2 separate regions of the Homo sapiens genome follow, and region 2 is linked to region 1. Evidence: fine-mapped QTL for protein levels in blood plasma. A gene starts in region 1. The other region holds a variant in brackets. All regions are shown on one strand. Distances are between the middles of the regions.

Region 1 (2,930 bases):
CGAATTTCCATTCCAATGACCACATGCTTCCCATTCCCAACATTACCTGGAAAATGTCCACTAGAATCATGGTTGCCAGCAGCATGGTGACTATTTCAAAATGTCCCGTCTTCATTTTTCTCTTCTAAATTAAAATAAAGAAATTTCAATTCAGTAGACTCAAAAAAGAGGTGTAGGGAAGTAGAATAGGATGACACTGCGTATTTTTTCATTTAGAATGTGAGTGGATAGCATGATGGTCAGGAAGTGATTATCAATAAATTCCTAACGGGCTACAAGAGCCATTAGGCTTTATCTAGTGGTCTAATGCTCTCATTCTACAGACGAGGAAACAAAAACACCTTAGAATTTCAGTGATTTGCTCAAGATTAAATCTGTGCATTTCCATACTCCTCCAGACATGTCATCTCTCCCACCACAGTCACTGGGAGTCATATTTTCTTCCCATCTCTAAATCTCCCCTCAGCGTGCACAGGAAATAACACAATCAGACTAAAAAACAGCAGTCTCAAATTGGTCCCCTAGCTCCCAGTTTCTAAGAATTCCCCAGGAATATGTCCATGCACATTATCCATTCTTCTATCCTCTTTGCACATTGTCATGCCCTTTTGAGTGGGACAGAGGAGATGATGAGGTCAGTAGTGGTACAAAGCAGTGGATTGTCAGAGATGGCCCCCTTCCCCCAAATACAATCAAGAGAAGCCCGAGGGTAAAATAAGTGTCTTACATAACTTTCTGAAGGCGGGAACAAGAATAAGAAGGAACTGGGTAGGCAGCAATTCTAAGATTATACAACTATTGGCCGAATGCCTAATATTCATCCCAGTATTTATGATAATGTAACTCAAATGAAGCTTCTATTTTACCCTACCAATCACCATATTCTGGATTCTAAAAATGAGAATGAACAGCACAGGGGAAGGGAGAAGTCTTCCCTTTTATAGATCATTTTGGCCTCAGTTTCCCATATTTCTTCAGAAGCAGTTTTGTTTTGTTTTTACTAAAAATACTAAAATATAGTACCAACATGCTACTTTGTGTTAAACTTCTCTTTCCAAAAAAGATTTGAATATAAGATGATAGATATCTGTCACAAGGCAATATGTTTTAAGCAAGCTTTGATCAGGATTTTCCTAAAAATTGTTCATTTCTTTAGTCTGAGTGTAAATAAGTCAAAAGGTTTACCTGGCTTTTGTGCCTTTGGAGGAAGTTTAAGTGATGCTAGGCCTCAAACTGACTCCCCACTCTCAGTTGTGGTAAGCAAGTCTTCAGGATGGGATGTTGTTGACAGTGAGAGCTGAGACAGGAATGCTTTTCTTTTTATAAACACCCCCAGCAGTAGCTTGGCAGTGGCACACTACGCTACTTGTGTTCTGCTATTTATATCTGGCCCCCCCACACTATGCCTTGGAATCACTGCTGTTAACACTTTAAATCTCCAAGAGGCTTGTAAAGCCATAGCAATTCCCTTTAGCCACACAGCACATTCAGTTCTGAGCCCACAGTTCTGGGCTTCTCTCAGAGAGAAATGACTTCCCATTCCTAATCCTTTGACACTGAGATATCAAACTAAAGCATGGATTTTACTCTAGGCTAAGTGATTCACATAACTAGGGAAACTTGCTCTGTTAATCACTGGCAATGGTGACAGCTATCACCATTCGCTCAACTAGCTTACTATATTTCAGGTACCTCGTCAGGAGTCGGGATACATAAGCAAGTAAAACAAAGTACTAAAAAGCACTCAAAATCTAATAAAAAACATGAATACGCATACTTAACCAAAATACAACATGTTAAGAATCCCAAGTATAGACAAAGTCCAGTGATAACATTAAGGAGGGAAGGATTTGGTAATGCCTGCAACTACAGCTGTCATTTGAGTAACGCATACATGGTAAATATACTGACTGCAATGCTGAGGAACACTTAGGGTTCACTGACTGTGGATTTAAAAAACACAAAAATGTCCAAAGAAATTCACGCATACATACACCAAAATACATTAATAGAATGTTGATAGTAGCACTATTCATAATAACCCCCAAACTGGAAACCAAATATCCATCAACAGTAGAATGGTTAGACTGTAAGTGAAATTTTATATAGCAATGAAAACGAACAAACTCTGACCATATATAACAATGTGGATAAATCTCACAAACAAAATTTTGAGTAAAAAAAGAGATACAAGCATGTTTATACTGTATGATTTAATTTATATCAAGAACAAAATTAGGCAAAACACTTCCAAGGCATGAGAAGTCAGAATAGTGGTCACCCTGGGTAGTAGCTAGTAACTGGAAAGGGCACAGAGGAGCATCTGAGATGTTAGCTGGGTTCTGCTTTTTGCTATGGATGCCAATTACATTGACAAATTCAGTTTGTGAAAATTCAGTGAGCTATATACTTATGATATGTGTTTTTTTTGTACACACATATATTACTTCAAGAAAACATTTTAAATTATCATGAAATACACCTATATTTACAAAATCCAACTCTACTCTTTAGAATAGAGATATGTTCCAACCTTTTCCCACCTCACTGGCTTGGCAATCCAAGATTAAATACACAGCACAGACTCACTCCCAGAAATAATATGATTTTTTAAAAAGCAGGAGTTTGGTTAGAAAGAAAAAAGAAAGTTTGCATGTCTTCAGGCCTTAGGCTCACAACAACCTGCTTTTAAGTTCCAAGCATGTAGGCCTACAGGAAATGAGGTAGAGAAGTTCTCCTGTCGCTGGCCTCCATTCCTGTTTTGTTCCAGTTTTTAACCAAATTTCTTTCATTCATTCATTGAACAAATATTTGAGTCCTTAAAATGTGCTAGGAACTGTTTTAGGTACTAGAGATATACCAGTGAACGAAATGGATAAATATCTTGCCTTTGTGAAGTTTATATTCTTGTGAGGGAAGGCAGTCAAATA
Region 2 (2,930 bases), 35 kb before region 1:
ATCCATGTATAAGTGGACCCATGCAGTTCAAACCTGTGTTGTTCAAGGGTCGACTATATATCATCAAGATCTGCTACGCTAGGTTTTATGTAGGATTTCACATGCTTTTACATTTCTATATAGCCAATATAATGATTTTCTGTTGTTCAAGTTCTCTAGCATTTTTTTTTAGCAATTTTTCTATTTCCATTTTCTGTATATACATGCAAGGTAAAGTTTAACTCTGTGTGTCTTCTATTTCAAACAAGATAACCACCAACATACAACTGGATATACAGTCATCCCTCAGTATCCTTTGGGGACTGGTTCTAGAACCCCTGAGGATACCAAAATCCACAGATGCTCAAGTCCCTTATATAAAATAGCATACATAAATAAATAAAATAGCATACACAGTATTTGCATATACCTACACACATCCTCCTGTATACCTTATACTATCTCTAGATTTCTTATAATACCTAATACAATGTAAATGAAATGCAAGTAGTTGTTGTACTGTATGGGTTTTTAAATTTGTATTATTTTTTCCCACAAATATTTTCGATCCACAGTTGGTTGAATCCCAGAGGATACAGAGGGCTAACTATAGCTGCATTGTTTTTTAAACACTAATCTCTGCAAGATGATAAAAAAAAAATAAATGTTTTTCCCTCCATACATACACTGCTGGAGAAACTCTTTCCCTTTCATTTGAACTAGTGGAGAGGAGCAGTGGAGTCCATCCACAGGATAAACTGTTTCATGCTGACCTAAACTCTTTTTGTTTGAACTACGGGGAAGCGTTGACTGGAAGTATCCAAATGGGATCACCACTCAGATTTCATAAATAAAACCAAGAAAAATAGCCAGTCAGATTTGTAAAAGCCTTCATATTATCAATGTACTTGCCATAGTTATAAACATGCAGTTGGATGTATACACACAGAGAAGTGGATAGGCAGATGCACACATGCATTAGTACAGTCGTGCAATGCATAATGATGTTTCCATCAATGACAGACCACATGTATGACAGAGATCCCATAAGACTATAATTATAATAGAGCTGAAAATTTCCTACTGCCTAGCAACATCGTTGCCGTTGTAACATATTACGTGTTTGGGGTGATGATGGTGTAAATAAACCTACTGCACTGCCAGTTGTATAACTGTATAGCACATACAATTATATATAATACATAACATTTGATAATAAACAACTATGTTACTGTTTTATGTACTTACTATACTTTTAATCATTATTTTAGACTGTACTCCTTCAACTTATTAAAAAACGTTAACTATAAAACAGCCTGAGGCAGGTCCTTCAGGAGCTACTCCAGAAGGCATTATCATAGGAGGTGACAGTTCCATGCACGTTACTACCCCTGAAGACCTTCCAGTGGAACAAGATGTGGAGGTGCAAGACAGTGATATTGATGATCCTGACCCTGTATAGGCCTAGGCTAATGTAAATGTTTGTGTCTTAGTTGTTAACAAAAGTTTAAAAAGTTAAAAAAAA[AG/G]GTGATAAAAAAGCTTTATAGAATAGGATATAAAGAAAAAATATTTTTGTACTACTGTACAATGTGTGTTTTAAGCTAAGTGTTATTACAAAAGAGTCAGATTAAAATTAAGTTTATAAAGTAAAACAGTTACATTAAGCTACGGTTAATTTACTATTGAAGAAGGAAAATTTGTTATGAATTTAGTGTAGCCTCTGTATAGTATGTATAAAGTCTACAGGAGTGTACAGTAGTGTCCCAGGCCTTCACATCCGCTCAACACCACCCAGAGCAACTTCTGGGCCTACAAGCTCCATTCATGTTAAGTGCCCTATACACCTGTACCATTTTTTATCTTTTATATTTTTACCATAACTTTTCTATGTTTAGATACACAAATACTTACCACTGTGTTACCGCTGCCTACAGTACTCAACACAATAACATGCTGTAAAGGTTTATAGCCTAGGAGCAGTAGGCTATACCATGTAGCCTACATGTGTAGCAGGGTATACCATCTAGGGTTGGGTAAGTACACACTATGATGTTTGCACAACGACAAAATCACTTAACACATTAATCAGAACATACCCCATCTTGTTAAGCAATGCATGACTGTATGTTACCACAGACCAGTGGTTCTCAGGGGGGCATTACTGCCCCAAGAGGCAGTTTGGACGATTGTCAAGAGTTTTTTGTTTTTTTTTTTAATCATTGCTAACAGTGGAGTGGAGGTAGAGGGATAGATATCCTGCAGTGCTCTAGTTCTGGACCATGAAAAATTGACCAACTTCCTGCACAACTTTAAAATGTACTGCTAGACATACATGTAAGTTAAAACCTATTTAAAATAATCAAACTCAGAACCTAAAGCAGTTTTATGTATATTTTTAATAGTTTTGATAAACATTAAACATCAGTTTTTATTTAGTATCTACTCTATTTCTTCACTCCATTTTCTTATACTTCCTGTATAGAATAGCTTCCAATCTTCTCTTCAACCCAAATTTATTTGCATAAATGTAAACATCGGTCTACTTTAGACATGATGTTGATTTTTATGGGTACAAATGCATCTCATCTATGGATCTTCTTTCTGGATAATATAAGGACTTTATAAAATACTTGTTATAAAGGGAGAATTGGGTTGAGAACCACTGTTCTTTTTTTTTTTAATATATATTTTCTTTTTTATTTTTATATTTTGCTCCCAGTCTTCAGACTGGTAAGAACCACTGTTCTAAGAGTAGAAACTCTAGATACAATGGAAAACGATTATCGAAAAAACAAAGCTATATTGTCCCCAACACACACATGCACACACAAGCTTTTGGATATGACATTATACTCTGTTATTAAGATGCCTTAAAACCTTGCAACTTTGTTCCCTTTATTGAGGAAAAATAAATTTCTCACTTTTTCTATATTACAGAAGCAGGCATTTAT

What was found. PIP is the posterior inclusion probability: the model's chance that the variant is causal. Sun 2018 read protein levels with aptamers (SomaScan).
Region 2: its variant is fine-mapped to the plasma level of the ART3 protein (Sun 2018, PIP 0.95).

What each region holds. Positions count from the first base shown.
Region 1 is chr4:76,073,075-76,076,004 of GRCh38, reverse strand. ART3 (ADP-ribosyltransferase 3 (inactive)) reads right to left here and starts at 1,296. Exons shown (of 12, transcript NM_001130016.3): 1 at 1,186-1,296; 2 at 47-124. The coding sequence starts at 115.
Region 2 is chr4:76,107,821-76,110,750 of GRCh38, reverse strand. The region is part of intron 11 of ART3 (ADP-ribosyltransferase 3 (inactive)); the gene reads right to left. Among named protein-coding and RNA genes, the nearest start is that of ART3, 35 kb to the right of the region's middle. The variant AG/G (reference allele first, on the strand shown) is at 1,505.